4 linked regions of the Homo sapiens genome follow. The protein of the gene in region 1 interacts with the protein of each later gene in a pairwise test. Each region holds a gene or a part of one and is shown in the gene's direction. Other genes may lie near its edges. The genes, in order: THSD7B, LYVE1, KIR3DL1 and GPR101.

Region 1 (7,029 bases):
GATAAGGCCTGCTGGTATGTCTGTAGATGAGATGCAAAAAATATGATAAACGTCAATGGGCAGCTCCCTCATCTGTCCATTTCTTGGACTCTTACCTACACAAATGAATTAGTTAATTAAAAGATCTGGCATATTACAAGCTAATGTTGGAAACTGTACCTGGATCAGTACCCATCAGAAATCAAAATGAGTACACTTCAAGGATTCTAGGGGCAGAATTTCCACAGACAATTCAGTGCTGCTGCTTCTCTTATTACCTTACCTTTCCCCTGCACCCCATTGTTATTTTCATGCAATTCTCTCTGCAAGTACTAACCAAAACTGAGGACAATTATTTTGAAAATGAAAATAGGATACTTTGGCAACTTAGGGTGTTAAACATATCTCTCTTCTGAGCTTCTTAGAGTTTGAGCTGAAAGACTGGAAATATGAAAAATTCTACTTTATTAAAATCCTGGCTTTAGGGCTTTTCTTTTGAATGAAACACCACCTCAGTGGAAAGTATTAATATTGAGTTAGATGTATAGGCTTTGGAACGTAGTAGTTATAATGGTACCAATCATTTATTAAATTTGTATTGTCTACTTGACACATTGTATCATTTATCTTCAGAGCAATTCTACAAGTCGGTGCTTTTATTATCTTCTACCTTATATAGGTGAGGAACTTTCTAAGGCTTAGAAAGTTGAAATAATTCATCCAAGTTTACATTACTGATGGAATGCTTATTTCAACAAGAGTGTCCACATTCTGAACCACTAAATTATGTTGTCTCTGTTCCACCAAAATTCCTAATTTCATACTGCTTGTGTTGGAAAGTGTGTTAATTGACTTCTACTTACCTGTGAATTGCTGAATGTAATCTCTGAGTAATTAACATCCTTGTTTTTCTGCCTGTAGGTCCGTGGGGAAGGTGTACAGGAGACTGTGGTCCCGGAGGAGTCCAGAGTCGGGCAGTGTGGTGTTTTCATGTTGACGGGTGGACAAGTCACCTGTCTAACTGTGGTGAGAGCAACAGGCCTCCAAAGGAAAGAAGTTGTTTCCGAGTTTGTGACTGGCACAGTGACCTCTTTCAGTGGGAGGTTTCTGACTGGCACCACTGTGTGCTTGTTCCTTACGCTCGCGGTGAAGTCAAGCCTCGGACTGCAGAGTGTGTGACGGCTCAGCATGGACTGCAGCACCGGATGGTGCGCTGCATTCAGAAGCTGAACCGAACTGTGGTTGCAAATGAAATATGCGAACACTTTGCCCTTCAGCCTCCTACAGAACAGGCTTGCCTCATTCCTTGTCCCCGGGATTGTGTAGTATCTGAGTTCTTACCATGGTCCAACTGTAGCAAGGGATGTGGGAAGAAATTGCAGCATAGAACTCGCGCGGTCATAGCTCCCCCTCTCTTTGGTGGTTTGCAATGTCCAAATCTGACTGAGTCAAGAGCCTGTGATGCTCCCATTTCCTGTCCTCTTGGGGAAGAGGAATATACATTTAGCCTTAAGGTTGGACCATGGAGTAAATGCAGACTGCCTCATCTTAAAGAAATTAATCCAAGCGGAAGAACTGTTCTGGATTTTAACTCTGATTCAAATGAGCGAGTCACCTTTAAACATCAAAGTTACAAAGCACATCATCATTCGAAGTCTTGGGCAATAGAGATAGGTTATCAAACCCGGCAGGTTTCGTGTACAAGAAGTGATGGACAAAATGCTATGTTAAGGTAGGAGACCTTTGATGCTTGAATTTGATTCACCTAAAATATTTTATAGTGCAACTTTATAAAGCTTCTTTATGATTTTCTACAAAGCGAAAATGGCAACGAGGTTTATAATTTAGGTTTTTAGAAGTTTCATGTAAGAAATTTTTAATTTCACTGGGAGGTTTTCAAAATTGCATAGTTTAGACCAAGCAGTGTTCTAGCATTCTTGTGTGATTAGTAATGCAATTATATATATAGGATAAGTCATATATTTCCACATTTTATCAAGACAGTAACTAGTATAAAAATAGATCTGCCATTACAACAGTGATAGAAGACTAAGGGGCTTCTCATAATGATAAAAATTCAAGTTCAATTTCAAATGTGGGATATGAATTATGTAAATATTTTTGTTTTTCAGAACATTTGTCCTTTAAAATTTTATTTTTGTTTTTATTTGTTTACTTTTGTTTCCACTGTTATCAACATTCTTTGACATCTGTGTTGTACATTTTTTATACTAGCAATAATACCGAAAAGTTGTTCCAAGAGTGCTTTCTTTGGCGTTATTTTGATACAGGTATTAACTTGCGCAAGCAGTAATTAGAATGACGTACTGGAGAAGAAATAAACTATTAAAGCAACAGCTTAGGTTTCAAATTTATGCTTGTTTTATTTTAAATTGTAGTCTAAAACATCATGACATAAACTCACAGAAATATATTGAAAGTAGTATTTGTTTAATTTTACCTCAGAGGGTCTTAAATGAAGCATTTGTGTATTACTAAGTTTCTTCCAAATTAAGATGCCTTTCAATAGTACTTAAATTACCAAACAACATAATGCTTGTCTTTAGAATTAATCATTCTCATCAGTTGCTGCCTTCTTGGGATCCACAGCTGACCAGGAGATGCCCAGAAGACTACCACTGTTGTTTATGAACAAAGTAATGTGATGATTGTTTTTTTTTCCATTTGACTTCACAAATGAGTATATTTTATCCTTGATACTTCATTCTGATTTGTGCCATATGAAATTAGCAAGTCCACTGAAGAGTGATTTGCAGCTTTTTATTGCCTACTTCTTTGAAGTCCAGATTAAGCAAAAGATTCATGCAATTTGTTTGAATGTGTGTGGGGTTGTGTAAATACATTGTTTTCTTAATATTCCGTACTGTATTGCTGAAGTGAGCATTACATAGAATCTTTTCATTTTGTTTGTGCATTTTTGCAGTGTTTTTCTTTTTTTAATAGACTTGATTTTTCAGATCAATTTTTAAATTTTCAGAAAAAATGAGTGAAAGTACTGAGTTCCTGTATACTCCCTGTCTCCAACATATAGTTTTTTCCTATTATTAACATCTTGCATTCATGTGATAGTTTCATAAACAAACATTTCATAGTTACATACACAAACATTGAGTGCATAACACAGTTCAAATTGTGTTCCCCTCCCCAAATTTATGTATCGAAATTCTAACCATGAGTGTAATGTTTTTAGGAGGCATGGGGCCTTTGGGAGGTAATTATGTCGTGATGATGCAGTTCTCATAGATGGGATTAGTGCGCCATGAGAGCTTCCTCTCACTCTTTTTCTGCCATTTGAGGATACAATGTGAAGTCAGCAGTCTGCAAGCCAGAAGAGAGAACCCACCAGAATGTGACTATGCTGGTACCCTGGTCTCAGACTTCCAGCCTCTAGAACTGTGAGAAATAGATTTCTGTTGTTTTTTAAGCCATCCAGCTTCTGGTACTTTGTTATAGCAGCTTGAATTGCCGAAGACTAACTGTTATAAAAATAAATACCATAGTTTGGGAATTTAAATGAGAAATTTATTTCCACAGTTCTGGAGGCTGGAAAGTCCAAATTCAAGGTGTGTCTTGATTTAGTTCGTGATGAAGGTTGTCTTCTTGTCTTAAAGATGGCCATCTTCTTGCTGTGTCCTCACATGGTGGGGGAGAGAGAGAAAAAAAGAGAGCACTCTATGTCTCTTCTTATAAGGTCACCAATCCTATCACAAGGGCTCCACTCTCATGACCTGATTACATTAGAAATTTCCCATATTCAAAATGGAGGTTAGAGTTTCAACATTTGAATTTTGGAGGAACACAATTCAGTGTGCAGCAGGTACATTGGTTACAATTGATGAGCTAATATTGATATATTACTGTTAATAAAGACTATAGTTTACATTAGGATTCATCCTTTGTATTGTACATTCTATTGGTTTGACAAATGAATAATGACATGGATCCACAATTACGGTATCATACAGAGTAGTTTTACTCCCCTAAGTATCCCTTCTACTCTATTTACTCATCCTTCCCTCTCTCCCTGAGAACCCCTGGCAACTACTGACCATTTTACTGACTGTCCCCAAAGTTTTGCCTTTTTAAAAAATGTTATATAGTTAGAATTATATATGTAGCTTTTTCTGGTTGACTTATTTCACTTTGCAATACGCATTTAAGTTTGTTCCATGTCTGTTTGTGACTTGGTAGCTTATTTCTTTTTATCACTGAATAATATTCCATTTTGTGGTACTATAGTTTGTTCATTCACCTACTGAAGTACATCTTGGTTGCTATCAAGTTTTGGCAATTTTGAATAAAGCTGCTATAAAAGTTTATGTGTGTAATTTTTTGTGAACATAGGTTTTCAAGTCATTTGGGTTAATATCAAGTAGTGCAATTGCTGTATGGTATAGCAAGAGTATGTTTAGTTTTGTAAGAAACTGCCCAGCTGTCTTCCAGAATGGCTGTGCCACTTTGCAATGCCACCAGCAATTAGTGGAAGTTCTATTTTGTCACATCACTGGGATTTGTTGTCAGTATTTTGGAGTTTTGCCATTCGAATAGGTGTGTAATGGTATCTCATTGTTTTAAATTGCGATTCCTTAATGACATGTGATGCTGAACATCTTTTCATACACTTGCTTGCCATCTGTATATATTATTTGATAAGGTGTCTATTCAGATGTTTTGTCTATTTTTTAATTGAGTTGTTTTCTTATTGTTGAATTTTAAGAGTTATTTGTATATTTTGGATACCAGTCCTTTATCAGATATGTGTTTTGCAAATATTTTTGACAGTCTATGATTTGTGTTTTCATTTTCTTGATGGTGTTGTTCACAGAGAAAATATTTTTAATTTTAATGAAGTCCAACTTCTCAATATTTTTTCAAGGATCTTTTTTTTTTGGTGTTGTTTAAAAATATCACTAAACCCAAAGTCAACTCAATTTTTCTCTTATATTTTCTTCTACGAGTTGCATAATTTTGTTTATTATATTTAGGTCTATCATTCATTTTGAGGTTTTTTGGTGAAAGGTATAGGGTCTATGTCTGCATTCTTTTTAAAAAAGATTATTATATGTTCAGTTGTTCCAGCACCATTTATTGTAAAGAATATCTTTTCTCTATTGAGTTACCTATGCTTTTTTGACAAAGATCAATTGACTATGTTGATATGAGTCTGTTCTATGCCTTCAATTTTTATTCTATTTTACTATCTATTATTTGTTAGTAACACAATGTTTTGAGTAATGTAGTTTTATAGTAAATTGTAAAGCAGAGAAGTGTCAGTCTTCCTATTTTTTTTCTTCCTATGTGTTGTCTGCAGTGAATCTTTTGCTTTTTCATATAAACTTTGGAACTACTTTTTGATATCCACAAAATAACTTCCAAGATTTTGATTGGGATTGCATGTAATGGAAGATCAATTTGGGAAGAACTAATATATTGATAATACTGAGTCATCCTATTCTGGTACATAGGATATCTCTCCATTTATTTAATTCTTGTTTATTTTGTCAGGGTCTTGGAGGGTTTTTTAAAAAAAATATATCTTGTACATATTGTGTCAGATTTAGATTAATTTACCTTTTTTGGTGCTAACATAAATGGTATTGTGTTTTTAATTTCATATTGCAATTGTGCATTGCTGGTATAATAAGAAAACCGTTAACTTTTTATATTAACCTTGCATCCTGCAACTTTGTTATAGTCACTTATTATCCAGAGATTTTCATTGCTGTAGTTGTTGATTTTTTGAGATTACTTACATAAATAAGCATGTCAGCATGTCATCTGCAAAAAAAAAAGGAAAAATTATTGCTTTCTTTCCAATCTGAATATGTTTTCTTTATTTTATTTTCTTGTCTTCATTAGCCAAGACTTCCAGTACAATGTTATACAGGAGTGATGAGAAAGGACATTCTTTTTTTTTTGTACTGGGAAAGAAATCTATGCTGTCACCATTAAGTGTTTTGTTAGCTATAGGTTTTTTTTTTTTGTAGGTGTTTTGATCAAGTCAAGGAAGTTCCCCTTCATTCTTAGTTTTCTGAGAATTTTCCTTATAAATAATCATTAGATTTTGTTAAATATTTTTTCTGCCTCTATTGATCTGATTATATGATTTTTGTTCATTAGCCTGTTTATGTTATGGATTACATTAATTGATTTTCAAATGTTGAACCAGCCTTGTGTATGTGGAATAAATCCCACTTAGCTGCGACGTAAATTCCTTTTACATAGTGTTGGATTTGACTTGCTAGTATTTTATTGAGACTTATTTCATGTATGTTTATGAGAAATGTTGATCTTTGTTGTCCTTACTTGTAATGTCTTTGTTGTGATGTTAGGGTAATGCTGCCCTCTTCGAATGAATTGGAAAGTATTTTCTGTGCTTTCATTTTCTGAAAGAAATTGTTGAGAATTGGTATAATTTTTCCCTTGAATGTTTGGTAGTGAACCCTCTGGACCTCATGCTTTCTGATTTGGAAAGTTACTAAATACTGGTTTAATTTCTTTTAACAGATTTAGGACTATTCGTATCATCGATTTCTCTTTGTGTGTTTTGCTAGATTTTGTCTTTCAAGGAATTGGCTCATTTCATCTAGATTATCAAATTTAGGGACATAGAGTTGTTCATAATATCCCTTTTTCCTTTTAATAGCTATGGGATTATTAATGATTACCCTTCTTAAGTTTCCAGTATTAATAATTTGTATCCTCTCTTTTTTTTCCTAACCTGGCTAGAGGTTCATTAATTTTATCAGTGCTTTTAAAAACCAGCTTTTGGTTTTGTTGATTTTTTTCTATTGATTTTTTTTCTAATTTCATTGATTTTGACTCTGATTTTATTATTTCTTTTCTTCTGCTTACTTTAGATTTAATTGCTCTTCTTTTTCTAGTTTCCTAAGGTGGAAACTTAGGTTACTCATTTGAGATCTCTCTTCTTTACTATTAGATGCATTCAATTTCCTCAAGCCCTTTCTCTTTGTTCCACAAATTCTGATAATTTGCATTATTTTCATGTAGTTCTAAATATTTTTGCAT
Region 2 (7,029 bases), on another chromosome or scaffold:
GAAGAAGGAAAAAAGAGGAACTGGGGTTTTAGAATCAGGCATAATTGAGTGTGTGCTCCTAATCTGCCACCACAGCAAGGTTCATATGGAGGACTTAGAAATGCTCCTTCCATGTTTTCAAAAAGAAACTTCCATTAGATATCAACCTAGGAAGTGGTCAAAGCATTTGACTGAGCATCCAATACACAGAGCTGCGTACAAGCAATTACTTGAGAGATTTAAATGCCCTTTTATGGATGTTTGTGGATGAAGCCCAGTAGGAATAATGTATTTGAATACAATACAACTTGGCAATTTTATACAGGTCTGTACATCCCAGAACCCAGAGAAAAGGGTTCAAAAGAATTCCCAAATCCATTAGATTTTGAGTAGAAATATTATTCATATCTTACCTATTCAACAGCCTCAGCTTCTGTGGGGTAATCAATCATTAGCAGACCAAAACCAAAATGCTTTAACGATAATGATAATGTTATGTGGATTTATTAAGCACCTACCATGTGGCAGGCACTATGCTAAACATTTGTATTAGAATTTACTCACTTAACTTTCACTACCCTATTCAGTAGACACTGTTACTCCCTTGAATTTATAAACAAGGAGGCTCAAAGAGCTGAAGATTAAAGAGATGAAGTATCTAGGCTAAGGTCACAGAGCTAGCAAATGACATATGCTAGATCTAAGCCCAAGTCTGACTCTAAAATTCTGCTTTCTTCATTTAGTTTTTCTGCCATTCAAAGTTTACTGCCAGCTCCTCCAGGAACTTCTGAGTAAGCCTGTCCCCCAGTGGCCAAAAGACCTGGAACTGAGAGCACTCACATTCTTTTATAACAAGTGTGACATTTTCAGCCCATCTCACAAATAGTAGTGTCCCCAAACCACATTGGTTTGGGGTATTGCTAACTATTCTATGAACTAGAGCCCTGAATTCTATCTTTCTCAAAGTCTCAGATGCTTCATTTTACAGACTCCAGAAAGGTTTGCAGTAACTGCATCCCTTAGACTGCACCCCAACAACAGGTAGCCAAAGCCCCTATATGGTGAGCAAGGCATCTTAATGCAGTGGGATGGGATAGATTTTGATTGGGCGACATTTACAGCTTGGACAAGAACAAGCATCCATCTAGCCCAGCAGATGGTCCTTGTGGAAAATGCCTGGTCTGTGTCCTGTTATTCTAAACCCCAGTCCCAGCCAGATAGACCTCCCTGCGCATCAGGACGATATACTCTGCTGGGAAGGAGAGTCTAAGGGCTGGAAACAAGGACAGCAGCAAACTGAGGACCTATGTGATTCCTTTGCAGAGCTTTCCATCCAGGTGTCATGCAGAATTATGGGGATCACCCTTGTGAGCAAAAAGGCGAACCAGCAGCTGAATTTCACAGAAGCTAAGGAGGCCTGTAGGCTGCTGGGACTAAGTTTGGCCGGCAAGGACCAAGTTGAAACAGCCTTGAAAGCTAGCTTTGAAACTTGCAGGTGAGAAAAAGCTGGTTTCACTGTCACTGCTGGAGTTCTTTTTTAGCTCTGTGTTCTTGTTCAGCAATAGAGATGAAGCCTTCTAATCATTTTTCTGTTCAACTAGTGTGTATTCTTTTACAGCTATGGCTGGGTTGGAGATGGATTCGTGGTCATCTCTAGGATTAGCCCAAACCCCAAGTGTGGGAAAAATGGGGTGGGTGTCCTGATTTGGAAGGTTCCAGTGAGCCGACAGTTTGCAGCCTATTGTTACAACTCATCTGGTGAGTCTGATCTGCAACCTTTCCACGTGGCATTCTCTGGGTATCTCTCACTCTGAGACCTGTCTGGGAAGAGTAACCCTGAGCAGCAGCAGAAGCAATCACAGCCACGGCCATCTAATTCTCCCGACACTGTCTCTCTGGCCAGGCTAGGGGTGGCAATATGCCCCTCAAAGGAAAAAGTTAGGAGAGATATAACTGAATGGCAACACACGAGAAGACATTCAGGAGGCTCAATTACCACTGCCACCATCCCTGCATCCTATAAGATAAGCAGGCAGAAGGGAAGGAACAAAGGTACAGATGTATGTAATGCATCCATTATGGACAAAGTGATGCACAGTCGTCCCTCAGTGTCAGTGGGAGATTGGTTCCGGCACCCCATCATATACAAAAATCTACAGATGCCCAAGTCCCTGATATAAAATGGGGTCATATTTGCATATAACCTACACACATCCTCCTGTACACTTTAAATCATCTCTAAACTACTTATAATACCTAATACAATGTAGATGCTATGTAAACAGTCATTGTACTGTATTATTTGCTTTTTTATTGTTGTATTGTTATTTTTCTTTTTTTCCCAAATATTTTCAATCCAAGGTTGGTTGCTTCCACCTATATGGAATCTACAGATCCCTATGAGATATGCTTTATCATCCCCACTTTGCAAATAAAGAAACCGAGTTCAGGCCGGGCACAGTGGCTCATGCCTGTAATCCCAGCACTTTGGGAGGCCGAGGCGGGCAGATCACAAGGTCAGGAGATTGAGACCATCCTAACACGGTGAAACCCCGTCTCTACTAAAAATACAAAAAATTAGCCAGGCGTGGTGGCAGGCACCTGTAGTCCCAGCTACTCGGGAGGCTGAGGCAGGAGAATGGCATGAACCCAGGAGGCGGAGCTTGCAGTGAGCCAAGATCATGCCATTGCACTCCAGCCTGGGCGACAGAGTGAGACTCCGTCTCAAAAAAAAAAAAAAAAAAAAAAAAAGAAACCGAGTTCAAAGGATGTAAACACATTTGTCTAACGTCTCATTACTGTAAAGGTTCAGACTCAGGTCTAACTCTGAAACCGCACTCTTTCCACTGTTCCACATTCCTTTATAATTTTAAGAACCAGACCCAGTCTCCACTTTATGAAGGAAAAGATTGACACCTGGAGGGCAGCACTGATTTGTTCGTGGTCATGAAGTCACCCACTAACCTTGCTTGAAGACCTTGGCTGCCTTAGCCCAAGTGCTTCACCTAAGTACTTCTCCTAAAGTTTTTCTTTTACTAAATACTCACTTGCTCTCAGTTTGTCATAAGGACCCCTGTCTGATTATTACTTTTCACACATACTCATCTATCTGACCTTCTGAAGGTTAGGTGGCTGAGAGGTCATACACAGGATAGATTTCAAGATCATTCTCGAAGATCCGAGAGATAAATGTGCACCAGCCAATATTAGCAAAAACTGTCCCAGAAAGGCAATATAGGATCCAAGTAGTTCCCTGATCCAGAGGGCTTTGGCACAGAAAAGGCCCATGGAGAAACTTTGACCAGTTCCCTCACTTCATGGATGAAACAACTACAGTTCAGAACACGGGCTTAGCTTGTTCAAGGTCCTACGGTCAGTTAGTGGCAGAATCAAGACTGAAACATAGGGCTTCTCCTAACAGTGTATTTCCCATCTTCCTTCCCTTCTCTGCCTCTTTGGTCTATCATCACTGGCTGGGGAATTGGTGAGCTACATATGCCTGCATACCTCATAGCCAGCCCATGCCTGTCAAATGGCTTTGCTTTTTAACTGCCTTCCTGCCAGCTGGCAATGTGATGATACCCAGCCCTCTGACTAAACAGAGAAGAGCCAGAGGAAGAGGACTTGGATTTGTCTATTTCCTCATGGTTTCATTTAACTTGTACTCCCATCCCATGTATTTCTTTTCTTTTTTTCCAGAGATAATTTTATTTTATTATTTTATTTTTATTATACTTTAAGTTCTGGGATACACGTGCAAAATGTGCAGGTTTGTTACATAGGTATACATGTGCCATGGTGGTTTGCTGCACCCATCAACCCGTCACCTACGTTAGGTATTTCTTCTAATGCTATCCCTCTGCTAGCCCACCCCCCAACCCCAGCTGATGCTACCCACTGCCACAAATAATTAGGGACTTAAAATAGATGCAAATTTATATTATAATATATTGCATGGCTCTGCCATTTACTAGCTCTGTGACTTTGGGCGAGTTATTCAATTTCTCTAAACTTCAGTTTCCTCCTGTGTAAACAAGGGTTTAGTAATATTGTTCAATGAGATACCTATTTAAACACTTACTGCCATGGTCAACTCAGATTAAGATGCTTTAACAAGTGTTTCCTCTCTAGCACATGCAACAGATTGGAAAGCAAACCCTTATCCCTCTCCTGGTCCCTTTTTGTTCACTTCTTTTTTTAATGAGCCCAGAAATATCAGGTCTTAGCATATCTTTGTCCTGAAGTGACACCACATGTGTATATTTGGTCTTCCAATCTATACTTTCCTTCCTTTCCCTTTTCCTTCCTTCCCTATTCATCAAATAGTTATTGAGCATGTGCTATGTACCACACACAGTGCTCATACCATGCTGACCAAGACAGACGGGGTTTCTGCTGCCAGAGAGCTTGCAGTCCAGTGGGGAACAGTGTAATGAGAACTGTGACAAGGAAGTACAAGAACATATGCCAATCAAGTCAACAAGTCTGCCTGAGAAAGACAGGGTCAATCTGAGACCTGAGGGATGAGTCAGAGTAAGCTAAATAAAGAGAGGCAAAGAGTCATAAAGGTGAATAAAGCATCGTGGTGCAAGGCTTGGATGTAAGATAAAGTGTATCAAGGAATTTCAAGTAATTTCAGTATGGCAGGGGCAATGAGAGAAAAAGAGCAGATGAGGCTGGCATGTTAGCAGGGGCCAAATCACAGAAGGCCTTGTAGGCCATACAACAAAGATAGCCACTGAAGGCTTCTAAGGAAGAAAGTGATATGGTTAGATTTGCTTTTTAAAGACCATTCCAGCTGCGGTATAAGGGGTTTGGAGGTAGTAAGACTAGAGGCAAGAAGAACAGTTAGGAGGCTGTTGCAATACTTTTATTCCATGTTTCCCTATCCCAACAGATACTTGGACTAACTCGTGCATTCCAGAAATTATCACCACCAAAGATCCCATATTCAACACTCAAACTGCAACACAAACAACAGAATTTATTGTCAGTGACAGTACCTACTCGGTGGCATCCCCTTACTCTACAATACCTGCCCCTACTACTACTCCTCCTGCTCCAGCTTCCACTTCTATTCCACGGAGAAAAAAATTGATTTGTGTCACAGAAGTTTTTATGGAAACTAGCACCATGTCTACAGAAACTGAACCATTTGTTGAAAATAAAGCAGCATTCAAGAATGAAGCTGCTGGGTTTGGAGGTAAATGGTTTCTGTGTCTATGTTACGTGTGTATGTATGTTCATGTATAACAGATAATTCATAGAATCCTGCCTGTCTTTAGATGAGGCGCTCAGGACCTGTCAAATACTAATAAAAGCTTAACACAAACTCAACTTTCATGAAGTCATAGAATCTGAGAGCTGTAAAGAACCTTAGTGATTAAGCTAAAAAGTGTAAGTATAAAAGAATTTCACTGTTGAAAACTCAAGACTTTTAAAAATAAATCACTATCTGTTCCTATGCATAAGTTCTTTTTAAAATATATACCCTAAAGGCCTATGACTTTATTCTAGTCATCTCTTTCTCAGGCAGGCTTGTTGACTAGAGTAGGTCTCAAGGCCATGGAGGAGAAATGAACTCTGTCATATTGCAACTGATAGAATTGAGAGTGTGAGAAGCAAGGCCAATGATTCTACAAGCATGAAGCAAAGAAGCTGGTGTGGGCCCAATATCATAAAGGGCTACAGAGAAGGTTTTTCTCCTGTACTGTCTACTGTCTCAATCACCTGGATCATGCAATGAGCATTACACACAATGTTTAAGTGAAGGACCAACAGGCCTTGTCTCTGTTCCTTGCAGGTGTCCCCACGGCTCTGCTAGTGCTTGCTCTCCTCTTCTTTGGTGCTGCAGCTGGTCTTGGATTTTGCTATGTCAAAAGGTAGGGTTGTTGGTGCACTGCTAGTCTTGTAATCTTTGTCATGTTTCTATCCTGTGCTTTTTCAGGGTCACTGTTGGCATTTTGCTGATCAAAATGGAGATAGCAGTCCTCTGATATAAATTTCTCCCTCATCTCATCTCTTTCCCTTCAGCCCAATCTTTTCTATTTCAGGACATGCATGTCGTCCAGCCATCAGTCAATGACTGTCCTTTGAAAATCAAGAAATTAAAAAAAATTGACATCTGGGGAAAATTTATATGCTTTATTTGATTTTTGGTTCTTTGTTTTTGTTGGAAGAGTTATGTGGTCAGCCTAAAGTCTGGCCTGCAAACATATTGTCCAATTTAAATGAATCCATTAAGGTGGTGATGTCTTAATGTATTAGAGCATGCATGTGCTGGCATCACTCTGAAATAAAGGTATCCAGTGTACTGTGCCAATATGTACCATGGCCAAAAAGTGTTATCTATCGTTATGTGTGAGAGTCTCTCACTTTAATTTCATGTTTCTGCCTAAAGGTATGTGAAGGCCTTCCCTTTTACAAACAAGAATCAGCAGAAGGAAATGATCGAAACCAAAGTAGTAAAGGAGGAGAAGGCCAATGATAGCAACCCTAATGAGGAATCAAAGAAAACTGATAAAAACCCAGAAGAGTCCAAGAGTCCAAGCAAAACTACCGTGCGATGCCTGGAAGCTGAAGTTTAGATGAGACAGAAATGAGGAGACACACCTGAGGCTGGTTTCTTTCATGCTCCTTACCCTGCCCCAGCTGGGGAAATCAAAAGGGCCAAAGAACCAAAGAAGAAAGTCCACCCTTGGTTCCTAACTGGAATCAGCTCAGGACTGCCATTGGACTATGGAGTGCACCAAAGAGAATGCCCTTCTCCTTATTGTAACCCTGTCTGGATCCTATCCTCCTACCTCCAAAGCTTCCCACGGCCTTTCTAGCCTGGCTATGTCCTAATAATATCCCACTGGGAGAAAGGAGTTTTGCAAAGTGCAAGGACCTAAAACATCTCATCAGTATCCAGTGGTAAAAAGGCCTCCTGGCTGTCTGAGGCTAGGTGGGTTGAAAGCCAAGGAGTCACTGAGACCAAGGCTTTCTCTACTGATTCCGCAGCTCAGACCCTTTCTTCAGCTCTGAAAGAGAAACACGTATCCCACCTGA
Region 3 (7,029 bases), on another chromosome or scaffold:
TACAACAGCCCAAGAGATGAGGCTGTCTTCACAGTGGCAAGGGAGTCAGGGGCTACTGGAGACAGAGGGACAGAGAAGAGGGAGGAAGACAGATGGAGGCACCTGCACCAGGGGATATGGGCACAGAAAAGACACGGAGATGCAGAGAGGGAGGAGAGAGACAGACACGGGGAGGGGAACCCTCACTCATTCCAGGTGCCATGGATGGGATGATAAAGAGAGATGCCTTCTAAACTCACAACTTCTCTTTCTAGGAAACCACAGAAAACCTTCCCTCCTGGCCCACCCAGGTCCCCTGGTGAAATCAGGAGAGAGAGTCATCCTGCAATGTTGGTCAGATATCATGTTTGAGCACTTCTTTCTGCACAAAGAGGGGATCTCTAAGGACCCCTCACGCCTCGTTGGACAGATCCATGATGGGGTCTCCAAGGCCAATTTCTCCATCGGTCCCATGATGCTTGCCCTTGCAGGGACCTACAGATGCTACGGTTCTGTTACTCACACCCCCTATCAGTTGTCAGCTCCCAGTGATCCCCTGGACATCGTGGTCACAGGTGAGAGTGTCTAGACATTGTTCTCATTGTCACTGGGACACAGAGTGAATGATCCAGGACTTGGAACCCCCAGGTGGTCATGAGGAAGATAAGTGTGGGATTCTTATGGAAAGAGAGTGACTTGGTGAGGTCTGTACCAACAGAGACAGAGAAACAGGAGACATAAGTACAGAACAGGTGTCATAACAGAGGACAGACACAGGGGCCATACAGGGAGGTAGAAAAGAGAGAAAGAGGTAAAGGAGACACTCAGACAGACAGACATGTCCCAGAGAGAGGTGTCCTTCCATGCTGACTTTGCTCAGAGACCTGGCACAGGTTAGAAGTTTCATTTCTGTTTTACCTCCACAAAGTGTTCCTACCAGAAGAACCCAAGGACACCCATATTTCTGACCTGAGTTGGGCCCTGTGGCCTCAGGCCTTGTGCCACCTACAGATGCCGTGTTTATTCTGACACCTCTGCCTTCCATGCAATGGAGAGTAATCATCCCAGGATATCATGGCCCCTGAACACCAACCCCTGTATGCTGTGTGAACTTGGGGTCCCCAGACTGGATTCTGAGGCTCATATTCCAAATAATCCCACATATGATAGGATCGCTGAGAGACACAGAGAAAAATCAGGGACACCAAAAAGCAAAGACATAAACACACACAAAATGAGCCAGAAGAAGGAGATTAAGAGATTCACAGACACATAAAAAGAAAGAAAAGAGGGCAGAATGGAGAGAATGATGGAAAGGAGGAGAGAAAAGCCCCAAAATCAGAACCCTGAGGGAGGGACACAAAGACAGAGAAAGATAAATATGTGGGGATGGATTGCAGAGATTCCAAATAGAACTAGAGAGACTGAGAGGCAGAGAAAGACAAGGAGACGGAGAGAGAGAGATGATAGATGGATAGATAGACGTAGATAGATGATAAATAGGTAGATGATAGATAATGGATTGGTTATAGATACATAGATGATGACTGATAGATGATACATAGAGATGACGATGATGATGATAGACACATAGATATATACATAGATGATACATAAATAGAGACAGAGAGGCAGACAGAGAGGTAATAGAGAGAGAGATAGATGATACATATATAGATAATAGATGATTGATGGATAGATAGACAGACAGACAATTGATAGAGAGATAGATAAGTGATACATAAATATAGATGATAGATAATTTGTAGATAGACACAAAATAGATAAATAGATAGAAATGTGCAGAAAGTTATGAACAAGACAGAAAGTGAGAGACTCAAAATTAAAGAAAAAGGAAGATCAAGTCAACCAATCCAAGGAGGGTCAGAGAGAATAAAACAATCCAAAAAGGGAAAACATACCTCAGGGTGGGGAAGTGAGGTCATAGACCTAGAGAGACAGAAAAGGTAGAAGGAGGAAACAGATATGAAGAGAGATGGGGTGGAGGGTGAGAGAGAGAGAGAGAGCATTAGGTCATAGAGCAGGGGAGTGAGTTCTCAGCTCAGGTATGAGGGGAGCTATGACAAGGAAGAACCTCCCTGAGGAAACTGCCTCTTCTCCTTCCAGGTCCATATGAGAAACCTTCTCTCTCAGCCCAGCCGGGCCCCAAGGTTCAGGCAGGAGAGAGCGTGACCTTGTCCTGTAGCTCCCGGAGCTCCTATGACATGTACCATCTATCCAGGGAGGGGGGAGCCCATGAACGTAGGCTCCCTGCAGTGCGCAAGGTCAACAGAACATTCCAGGCAGATTTCCCTCTGGGCCCTGCCACCCACGGAGGGACCTACAGATGCTTCGGCTCTTTCCGTCACTCTCCCTACGAGTGGTCAGACCCGAGTGACCCACTGCTTGTTTCTGTCACAGGTGAGAAAAGCCCATATCTCTCTCATGTCCTATGATCCTAAATCCTTAGCTAAGGAGCTTCCTGCTGATGATGGAGAAAAGCATGGACAGATGCAGAGAGAAGACACAGCAGGTGTGAGGGCGGAGTCAGGGCGCAGGATGGCAGACAGGGCACCTCCAAACCCTCCTTCATGGCCTGCATGGAGGCCTCCGATCAGGGCTCCAGGCACCCAGGCAGATGGAGAAAGCGGTCAGGACAGACCCAGAGAAGGGGAGACTGGGCTTAGTTTGGGGAGATCAGAGGTTCCCTCAGCCCCTCAATCTTATCCATTTCCCAGAAGCCCATCATGGCCTCTCACCCACACAGAGAGATATCATCACCAGCAACCCCTACACCCTTTTCTTTTCATTTTCAAAAATATTTATTGAGGTTAAATGTAACTATATAATTTACCACCTTTACCATTTTTAAAAGTAAAATCTAGTGGTCATAAATACCTTTATATGCTGGGTGTGGTGGTTCACGGTTGTAATCTCGGCGCTTTGAGAGGCCAAGGAAGGTGGATCATTTAAGATCAGGAACTCGAGATCACCCTGGCCAACATGTGGGAAATTCATCTTTACTAAACAGACAAGAAAAATTAGCCGAGCATGCTGGCATGCACCTGTAGTCCTAGCTACTTGGGAGGCTGAGGCAGGAGAAGCACTTAAACCCAGGAGGCAGAGGTTGCACTGAGCCGAGATCATGCCACTGCACTGCAGCCTGGGAGACAGAGAGAGACTCTGTTTCTAAATAAATAAATACATCTATATTCTTTTTTTTGTTACCCTCCACCCTTCCCTTCCTGGCCTCTGGTGTCCACCATTGTATTCTCCACCTTCATGAGATCCACCTTTTATCTCCTGCATGTGGGTGAGAAATGGGAATCTTTGTAATGACCTCCAGTTCCATCCATGTGGCTGCAAATGACAGGATGTTATTGTTTCTATGGATGAGTAGTCTCCACTGTGTGTGTGTACCACAGTTCTCTATCCATTCACCCACTGATGGGCAGGTAGGTTGACTCCACATCTTGGCTACTGTGAACAGTGCTGGAACAGTCATATGAGTGCAGATATCACTTCGATACACTGATGTCCTTTCCTTTGGATATAAACCCAGTAGTGAAATTGCTGGACACTATGAAAGTTCTCTTTTTTTTTTTTTCTTTTTTGAGAAAGAGTTTCCCTCCTTAGTCCAAGCTGGAGTCTAAGTGGTGAGATCTTGGCTCATTGCAACCTGTGCCTCCTAGGTTCAAATGATTGTCCTGACTCAGCCTCCCTAGTAGCTGTGATTACAGGTGCACGCCACCATGCCTGGCTAATTTTTGTATTTTTTTAGCACAGACGGGATATCCCAATTTTGGGCAGGCTGCTCTCAAACTCCTGACCTCAAGTGAGGTGCCTGCCTCGGTTTCCCAAAGTGCTGAAGTTACAGGCATAAGCCACTATGCCCAGCCTCCTTTTAGTTTTTTAAAGAATTTCCATACTTTTCTCCATAATAGTTGTACTAATTTACATTCCTACCAACAGGGTACCAGGGTTCTCCTTTCTCTACCATCTTGCCAGCATTTGTTTTGCCTGTCTTGCAGTAAAAGCCATTTTACTTTACTTTATTTTATTTATTTATTTATGTTGAGATGGAGTTTCACTCATAGTCTCCCAGGCTGGAGTGCAAGGGTGTGATCTCAGCTCACTGCAACCTCCGCCTCCCGCGTTCAACTGATTCTCCTGCCTCAGCCTCCAAAGTAGCTGGGATTACAGGCATGTGCCACCACGCCTAGCTAATTTTTGTATGTTTAGTAGAGAGGGAGTTTCTCCATGATGGTCAGGCTGGTCTCCCGACCTCAGGTGATCCGCCCACCTCCGCCTCCTGAAGTGCCGGAATTACAGGCGTGAGCCACCGGCCTAAAAGGCATTTTAATGGGATGAGATGAAAACTCATCGCGATTGTAATTTACATTTCTCTGATGATGAGTGATGCCGAGTACTTTTTCATATACGTGATCGCCATTTCTATGTTTTGTTTGTGGAGAAATGTCTCCTCATGTCTTTTGCTCGTTTTTTAATTAAATTGTTTTATTGAGTTGTTTGAGCTTCTTATATTTCCAGTTATTAATCCCGTCTCAGATGAATAGTTTGCAAATATTTGCTCCTATTTTGTCGGTTGTCTCTTCACTTTCTTGGTTTATCTTTTGTGGTGCAGAAGTTGCTTGGTTTGATGTAATCCTAATGGTCTATTTTTTGCTTTGATTACTTGTGTTTTGAAGGTTTTAAACAAAATGTCTTTCGTCAGACAAATGTCTTCCCCATTATTTTCTTCTACATGTTTCATAGGTTCAGGCCTTAGACTCATGTTTTTAATCCATTTTCATTTGATTTTTGTGTATGGTGACAGGTATAGATGCAGTTTTATTCCTCTGCATGTAGATATCCAGTTTTCCCCACACCATTTATTGAAAAGACTGTCCTTTCCTGATTGTAAGTTCTCGGCACCTTTGTCAAAGTCCATTAAATGGGCTGGGTATGGTGGCTCACACCTGCAATTCCAGCACTTTGGGAGGCCGAGGCGGGTGGATCACCTGAAGCCAGGAGTTCAAGACCAGGCTGGCCAACAGAGTGAAACCTCGTCTCTACTAAAAATACAAAAATTAGCTGAGCATGGTGACCAGTGCCTGTAATACCACTACTCGGGTGTTTGAGGCAAGAGAATTGCTTGAATCCAGGAAGTGGAGGTTGCATTGAGCTGAGATTGCACCTCTGCACTCCAGCCTGCATGACAGAGCAAGATTCTATCACACACACACACAAAAAAAGCCATTGGATGTAAATGCATGGATTATATCTGTGTTCTCCATTCTGTTTCATTTTTTATGTGCCTTTCTTTATGCCAATGTCATGCTGTTTTGCTTACTACAGCTCTGTAACATATTTCTAAGTCAGGTAGTGTGATGCTCCTGTTTTCTCTTTATACCTTCAAGTCTCAAGACAGTGGGCATCGCACACAAAAATTATGGAGAAGAGGATCCCAAGACTCCCAGGGTCCAACATTAGATAACAGAGTGTTGGCCATGAACCAACCTCAAAGATTTCCATTGAGTAGAGGACAAGCACCCTCATTTCCTCACATCTCTCCTGTCCCATGTTCTAGGAAACCCTTCAAGTAGTTGGCCTTCACCCACAGAACCAAGCTCCAAATCTGGTGAGTAAAGGACCCCTCTTATCTCTGCTTTTGGAAACCTGGGGAGGTGGAAGCCTTGGATGCAAGTGTTGGCTCAAACCTCCCAGCTCTGTGAATGAGGGCCTGTCTTCCACCATCTCTGAACTCCAGACACTCCAACAGTGAAAGGGATCTAGGGCCACCAAAGGGCTCAGCGAAGTCTCTTAACCTTTAATGTCCTGCAGGTGAGACCTCCTACAAGCTAGAAGAATGATTGCCAATCTGACATCCTTCTCAGGAAACATGCAGTGTTTTTTCTTCCTGCATTCCTAACTGGAGGATAAATTCCTGGGGACTTGAGAGAGGGAAGGGAAGGGAACATCTGATGAGGGCGAGGTGTTTTAGAGAAGTTCCACTTGCCAAGGAATGAATTACTGTTGGTCATGAAGCAACCCTGGCTGACTCAGCAGAGCAAGAGCCTTGCCGTAACAGAGAACAGAGCTCATGCACGCACACTTCGACTCACTGACTCATTCAGCCACGGCCCCATGCTCAGGCTGTGCAGTTGGAATCCTTTCCTATTGTTGCCATAACAAATTTCCACAAGATTCGTGGGTGAAAACAAAACGGTTTTTTAATTATCTTACAGTGCTGTAGCTCAAAGTAGGAAGTGCATCTTACTGGGCTAAAATCAAGGTGACAGCAAGGCTGCCTTCCCTCTGAGGATTCCAGGCAAGAATCTGCTTCTCACTTGTCCCAGCTTCTAAAGGCTCCCAGTTCCTTGGCTCCTGGTCCCCTTCCTCCTTCCTCAAAGCCCACAAAGACTGGTCACATCTCACATGGCATCACTCAGACCCTTCTTCCTTACCACACCTCTTTCTCTGAATGCTGCTCTCCCTTCTTCCTTATCTTTTGAAAACTTGGGGATTCTATTGGGTTCACCAAGATGAAAATCCATCATAATCTCCCGGAAATCATTCAGGATACCCTTGTTTTAAGTTCAGCTGACTAGCAACCGTAATTCCATCTGCAATCTTCATTCCTTCTTTCCATGTAAAATAAGATATTCACAAGCTATGGAGGCCAGGACAGGGACATTTTGGGGTGGGACAGCATTCTCCTGCCTTCCACGAACGGTGAACAAGATGCATTTGGCCTCTGCTCTTGGGACACTGATATTGCAGATGGTTAAATGGGAGGACAGAAAATGAGTGCACAAGTGGACCAATAAATGAATGATCCATTGGGAAGCATCTGTGCATGAAATCTATTTGTTTGTTCGTTCATTTATTTATTGAGACAGAGTCTCCCTCTGTCTTCCAGGCTACAGTGCAGTGTCACGATCTTGGCTCACTGCAACCTGCGTCTCCTGGATCCAAGTGATTCTCCTGCCTCACCCTCTCGAGTAGCTGGGATTACAGGCAACTGCCACCATGCCCGGCTAATTCTTT
Region 4 (7,029 bases), on another chromosome or scaffold:
GCCCGGAGGCAGCATGCTCTGCTGTACAATGTCAAGAGACACAGCTTGGAAGTGCGAGTCAAGGACTGTGTGGAGAATGAGGATGAAGAGGGAGCAGAGAAGAAGGAGGAGTTCCAGGATGAGAGTGAGTTTCGCCGCCAGCATGAAGGTGAGGTCAAGGCCAAGGAGGGCAGAATGGAAGCCAAGGACGGCAGCCTGAAGGCCAAGGAAGGAAGCACGGGGACCAGTGAGAGTAGTGTAGAGGCCAGGGGCAGCGAGGAGGTCAGAGAGAGCAGCACGGTGGCCAGCGACGGCAGCATGGAGGGTAAGGAAGGCAGCACCAAAGTTGAGGAGAACAGCATGAAGGCAGACAAGGGTCGCACAGAGGTCAACCAGTGCAGCATTGACTTGGGTGAAGATGACATGGAGTTTGGTGAAGACGACATCAATTTCAGTGAGGATGACGTCGAGGCAGTGAACATCCCGGAGAGCCTCCCACCCAGTCGTCGTAACAGCAACAGCAACCCTCCTCTGCCCAGGTGCTACCAGTGCAAAGCTGCTAAAGTGATCTTCATCATCATTTTCTCCTATGTGCTATCCCTGGGGCCCTACTGCTTTTTAGCAGTCCTGGCCGTGTGGGTGGATGTCGAAACCCAGGTACCCCAGTGGGTGATCACCATAATCATCTGGCTTTTCTTCCTGCAGTGCTGCATCCACCCCTATGTCTATGGCTACATGCACAAGACCATTAAGAAGGAAATCCAGGACATGCTGAAGAAGTTCTTCTGCAAGGAAAAGCCCCCGAAAGAAGATAGCCACCCAGACCTGCCCGGAACAGAGGGTGGGACTGAAGGCAAGATTGTCCCTTCCTACGATTCTGCTACTTTTCCTTGAAGTTAGTTCTAAGGCAAACCTTGAACTGTCCATAACACGAGAAACAAGAGGAGATTTCTTTTCAATGGACCCACAATTCATTAATGCCAAACCATACCATTTCAGGCAAAGGTGTTGCACACACATGCTCTTCACCACAAGGTAGATAAATATATAGAAGAGGCAGGAACTGGGGTCTTTCCGTAAAAGCATGGACTTGAGGATTCTGACTGAAATTTTCCCCCCAAAGATTATTAGGCTCTACATTTCTTAAAGCAACAAGGGCTATCCATTTTGGACTTGTAGTTGGTATTCTATCTTTTCCAGAGCTACAACATGCCAACTTTAGCTCTGAAGGAAAGGGAAGATGATGCTTGTGAACTTAAGGACTTTTCGGCCCTCGGGTCGGGAGCTCATGGGCCAGAGCTACAGCTTGTGTTCAACTGAAAGAAAGGCAATGGACCAAATCATTCATGGAGCCCAAGAAACAGAACCTAATGGACTGATCAACATATGAGCCAAATTCTGAACTGAACAGCCCCACAGTCGGGTGCAAAGACTGTTACACAAACTAAAACAAAGGGCCTCCTACAGTTAGAATCTCAAGAAGGTTTCTAGATCCCCTAAAGGGATCCAGAAAAGTAGAAGGACATGTATGAAATGGGAAGCTAGTCCAAGGGAAAAGATTGAGAAATAACACACATCTGGAGAGCTAAACAGTTGACTTTTTTTCCTATAAAATCTTGGGTTTATGCATGGGCTGGAACTGAGGTCATTAAGTGTAAATTGTCAATTGACACAAATATTTTCTGTCTCCTGTTTGAATAATAGTGGGGCAGAAATCATGCCACTATTTTACAACTTCCCTTATGTGACTGAATTGAGATGCTGGTGGGAATTCTTCAGATCTCTGCCAACACTTCTGTTTTCTTTTGGTTTGTTTTTGTCAAATAAGCCTTTTTTAGTCAAACAGTATTTACAGAAAAAAAGAAATTCAACTAGAAGTGGCCTAAGTCCTACAAAATTCATGATGTCACTGAGGAATAATTTGTTCATCAGAAATATATTTTGTGTCCATGAGATCATAGACAATAAATGTGATCTCCACATGGGGAGCAAGGAAGGCAGAATGAACATTTTTCTTCCTCCAGGCACACCCATGTGTCTTTTCCACCTGTGGCTCTCTTTAAAGCTTTTAAGCTCTCTGCAGATGTGAAAGAGAAATATCAGAGAGTCAGAAATGACAAAGAGGATGATTTCACAATACCTAGAAAACATGTAACCTATTCCAAACAGTCCTAAAATCAGAGCATTCAGATCAGACATATCCTAATTAATGCTGTTGAAATAAATCACGTTGGGAAAACTTTAACAATATCTAAATTATCCCTAGGGTCAATTCACAGGAACATTCCTCAAATCCCAAACCGCAAAATAACTTTGGGCAGGGATATACATATACATTTCTGAGGGCATGGGCCGTATGTATGTGACCAAGTAACATGGAACCAAAAAAACAGTCAAGCCAGTGTTTTTGATCCTCCTACAGAACAAGTTAAAGCAACTCCAGAGTCAACCAACTGTTCATGCAGAAATCCACTGTCAATATGGGTGGAGGGAGTGTTTGGTTGAAAATGGTTAATCAGGTAGTTGTATGATGTAAGATGACCATCTTCAGAGTTTAGCCTCATTCTTGTGTGATTGTCATGCCTTTATTAGAACTCAAGTTTCATTTAAATAAATGCCCAGCTCATTTATTTTTTTTTATCTCTTCCTCCTCACAGATTTCAACATGAACTTCTCAAGGGGTAAACAGCAATGTATTTGGACTGTGAATAACTCTGCATGGGAATTTGGGATTGCCATGTTCAGAATTTAGGAAAGTAGAGGGAATAGAACCAAATAATATAGAGCTGACCCATCCAATAAAAATACCATGATAACCTTATTAATTCCAACTCCATTAATTTGGAACTTGTAGTTATTCAGACAAGGCATGGGGGCTAAAGTTTACCCTTACACTATCATTTATTTTTCTACCAAAATGCATAAAGTGAATTAACAGTCATAAATTTGTTCTACCAATTTATTGCCAAACTCTTGAACTGACCTTTCCTTAAAGGATATCTGGGTGAAGAAATGGCCTATGTGATCAATCCTCCTACAGGGGAGGGGCAGTGCCTTCAGGTCTGTTCAAATTGTCAAAGGAGTTCAAGGTAGCTATAGCCTATCCTTTGAGTAGAAATGCTTACTTGGGTAGGAAACAGGATTTCAAACATAAATGTCTCCAAACATTGTGTTAAAACTGAACTTCTTGTTTTATTTTTAAAGCTCACCCCCTTCAAAGTGTATCAGAGAAAATTGTTTGCCAAAATCTCAAATCAAAATGGAACCAGAACCTGTACAAGTATGGTAAGTCCATTTAACAGCACACACAACATTCTCAAGGGCACTGAGATTCCCTTTCCTTTTTGAAGTTCCTCTTTTCCCTATTTTAGTCATTGTCCATTATTTTGGTAAATTGGATTCCTCAAAAGTGAAGACCTTTTGAAACTATGAGCCTGGAAAAGAGGACCTTTTAATTAAGAGCATTCTGCTTTGATGACATTTTCTTCTAAATGAACAATAAGGCCTATGGTTAGCTTGGAGATAGCAAGTACTCGAAATTTTTTGCTATTTTGAATAAAGCACTATCAACTTAATGAGGTTTTACTGCACATACTGTTTTGTCATTTGAAAATCTGAAAGCACACAAAAAAAGTCATCATTAGCCTCACAGATCCTCATGTGCAATAGCTTTCCCTGAATGTTTTTAAAGGATGTATTCTTTTGCCAAGGCCACTTCATATGTGCAGTAAAAAAAAAAAAAAAAATCCCATTAAAGTACAGGGGCCAGACAAACCAGACTATGAAATGATGTGATTTTAAATTTAATGATTTTCCTTATTTACGAATAATAGAGCATCTAGTTTGCCAAGAAGTCGCAGGTGCTTTGACTAACACACCAATTTCCACAAGCTTGGGAAGGCAGTAATAAGGAGCAAGCCCTGGGCTTCTGTGACTTCTGTGATGCTAGGGTCCCACTTCTCTGAGACACCACAAGTACCAGCTGCTTGGAAGGCCTCTGCACTTCCAGCTCCCTGCCTACCTCTTGCCATCAGCCCACTGCCTTCACCTGCCTCACTCCCTCTCCCTCTGCTGCACTGGCCCTTCAGGAATAGTCCATGCTTGAAGCTCTGCGTGTTCACCTACTCCCCATCCATCCCTTCCCAACCCAGAGCTGACAGATTCACAGGGACCTGGGGGCCTATGGAAGCAGGGAAGGAGAGAAGTGAGCCATAGGAGCAATGAAAGGTATTTTTCTGTCTCCTACCCAACTCCAATCCAATTTAGAGATGACGGGATACCTACTTCAAATTCAACAGGTAAGGAAAAGTGCCAGTTATTATTTAGTAGAAGGTAGGCACCTAATTTTTTACCAAAAAAGCACTCGATATTACACATCATTGGGGGAATAGTCAATACTGTAGATACTGTCCAATTATTTCAGCAAAAATAGAACACTAAAAAATGTTTCACCTACAGAATTATAAGATGCCTAACATTGCCTTATTTTATATATAATTAGCCAATTAAGCTAGGTAAAGTTACTTCAAGAAGATTTTTTCATACTACCTGAAGAATAATTTACATGATTAAACTAGGCTTACTTAGACTTTGCCAAAAAAGCTTTTAAAAGTGTCTGAAACACATCATTTGGAAGAAAAAAAATACGCATCATCTGGTAATTTGGACTCTCAAGATAAAACTCTCATGGGTTGTTGGGATAAAACAATGAGCAACAATTTAAACTACTGGACTGTATTTTTCTCTCATAACCACCCTGCCCAATATTTTGAGGAAAAAAATAACGTGTTTTCCCCTCATAATGTCTTTTCTGTTGTATTCCTCTTTAAGAAAGACCTCACGCTGTCAGGAGAGGTTTCTCTAAGCAAAATGCCGTTTCCTTCTAGACCAGACAAAAGATTACAGGAACAGTTAGCTGTTAGCCAGTGGCCAAGATAAGGAGAGAAAATCTGGCCACTCAATGGCTTTTAACCCTCTCCCTCCTTATCTCTTCCTCTTACTTTCCATGGGCTGGACTAGTGCTCTCGGCCCCTCAAAGCCCCTCTAAGCTAAGGCATGAGGAGACAGAAGCAATGAGCTGGAAACAGCAAATGCGATAGTCTAAAATCCAAAAAGAAGAGAAATCCTTGTCATAAATTCTTTCCAATTACTTAGCAATGATCTCTTCCTCTACGTCAAATGCCCAGCTTGCTTACAGCAGTCTTTTGCCCTAAGCAACAAAACTGGCTAGAGGAAGAAACAGTGAAGCTAAAATCCACTGAACCTGGCCACAGATTGCCAGGTCACTGACAAGTTCACTGCTCTTTGGTAAATAGAATAAGAATCCTCAAGGTAAACGAAGGTTGCTAATAGGTGTCAAGTGTTTCCATCATTGCCTCCCAAAGCCTCCATATCTCAGAGTACACACACCAAGGGAAAACCACAGTGACTTAGACACTCAGCAGGAGGTTTACTATGTCTGAGGAATAATTATTCTATCTGTCTTGTTCTAAAATGTAGAGAAAAACAAGATTGGTTTTAGTTTGATGTTTCAAACGTGAGTGGATTTTCCCCCCTCTTCATCTGTGCTACAACTTTAATGTTAAAAGTTTGGTATTTTCATCTTTAGTGATGTAGTATTTTTTGTAGTAATTCTCCTAAATGTAAACTATAACTGTATATAAAATGTAAGTGTTCTTGGAGATACGGTGCTAGATATTAGATTGTGTTTGTAGATAGTGTTGTCCTCAAAGGTAGTATGTACTTGTAAAGTTAGTTAATAAAATGCATGCCAAATTCTATGTGTGACCTACAACTTAGTCAGTTTCTGATGTAGAACATGGTACATTTGTTTTTTAAATTTATTTTTGAAGTATATACTACAGGATATGTAAAATAGTGCCAAGGTGGGGTTGCAGGAAGTGTTGCCTTTCATTCCTTAAATCCCTAATATGATATATGACAGGTGAGGACTTATTCTGGTACAATTGGTCATTAGTGTGAACTAATCATCGTGGCTGAAGTCCTTGCTGACAGTTTTCCACAACACACTTGGCACTGGTGTGCCTGTTTTCTATTCACTGAATATATAGAATGCAAACTCAAAGAAGACCATCCTTCTCCATTAAAAAGGAAGGACTCCAGGATAGGCAAGTAGAGTCCAGTTAGCAGGACGAAAAGAATACTGCACCCTGAAGACCCAACCAACACCTGACCGTGAACTGACAGGTTTCGCGCTTGGCAGATCCATAATGTGACCATCCATGCCCTCCTAAAGCAGTAGCAAAACCCAGAAAAAGGCTGCTCTGTTTTTCCCCCTTTGGTTGGTTGTCTGAGAGACAAGATAGAGACAGCATGGATGGCTAACTAGATAGAGAGGTAGTGGGACTCCTCTATGGGGTCACAGCTACGGTGTTTGATAGTTACAGTACTGTATCAATGGAATTTGTGTCAGACAAGAAAAGAAAACTATAAGATGATTTTGTTATATTTTCAGAACAAAATATTACAACTAAAAAACTATATATACCCTCATTAAATTGTTTTTAAAACTGCCTTTAATACCAAATTTTGTGAGCTGCTTTGAAACTGAAAACAGAAAAATGTATTTAATCAATAAATAGTTCTCTTTAATATTTTAACGTTTGAATTTAAAAGTTTCATTTTTCTTTAAAAACAGTAAGAATTTGTAATTGAAAAGTGCCTTCTCAAAGGATTGTCAAACTACAGTCCTGAGGCCAAGTTCCCATTGGCACGACTTACCTTCAGGTGCACAAAACAGGTAGGCTTTATCTTCCTCCCCTCAACAAGAAGAGAATCCCACTCACACCCCAATCAAATTCATAAATCAACACTATTACATGGGCCAGCAGTCCCAGAGATTCTGCCCAAGGCCAAGGTTTCACATATTGGTTGGCTTTAATTGGATCCTTTCTAAAATGGTTACAATGCCTTTTTTTTTCTTTTGCTGGAAAGGAATAACGGACTCCTGCTTGGGAAATGCGGAGAAATTGATGTTTGTGATTTAACTAAGTATTATTAAGTGATGTTTGTGTTTCTTAAATAGGTGCT

What was found.
Region 2: the proteins of THSD7B (region 1) and LYVE1 interact in binary tests that used the Homo sapiens proteins (3 or more experiments, as listed by UniProt).
Region 3: the proteins of THSD7B (region 1) and KIR3DL1 interact in binary tests that used the Homo sapiens proteins (3 or more experiments, as listed by UniProt).
Region 4: the proteins of THSD7B (region 1) and GPR101 interact in binary tests that used the Homo sapiens proteins (3 or more experiments, as listed by UniProt).

Annotation. Positions count from the first base shown.
Region 1 is NC_000002.12:137,055,520-137,062,548, forward strand, and holds part of THSD7B (thrombospondin type-1 domain-containing protein 7B precursor), read left to right. Parts: intron 1-900; coding exon 901-1,711; intron 1,712-7,029.
Region 2 is NC_000011.10:10,558,648-10,565,676, reverse strand, and holds part of LYVE1 (lymphatic vessel endothelial hyaluronic acid receptor 1 precursor), read left to right. Parts: intron 1-1,302; coding exon 1,303-1,474; intron 1,475-1,597; coding exon 1,598-1,737; intron 1,738-4,876; coding exon 4,877-5,182; intron 5,183-5,782; coding exon 5,783-5,861; intron 5,862-6,379; coding exon 6,380-6,566; 3' UTR 6,567-7,029. UniProt on the Homo sapiens protein: Ligand-specific transporter trafficking between intracellular organelles (TGN) and the plasma membrane. Plays a role in autocrine regulation of cell growth mediated by growth regulators containing cell surface retention sequence binding (CRS).
Region 3 is NC_000019.10:54,819,459-54,826,487, forward strand, and holds part of KIR3DL1 (killer cell immunoglobulin-like receptor 3DL1 isoform 1 precursor), read left to right. Parts: intron 1-254; coding exon 255-554; intron 555-2,106; coding exon 2,107-2,400; intron 2,401-5,569; coding exon 5,570-5,620; intron 5,621-7,029. UniProt on the Homo sapiens protein: Receptor on natural killer (NK) cells for HLA Bw4 allele. Inhibits the activity of NK cells thus preventing cell lysis.
Region 4 is NC_000023.11:137,023,992-137,031,020, reverse strand, and holds part of GPR101 (probable G-protein coupled receptor 101), read left to right. Parts: coding exon 1-873; 3' UTR 874-7,029. UniProt on the Homo sapiens protein: Orphan receptor.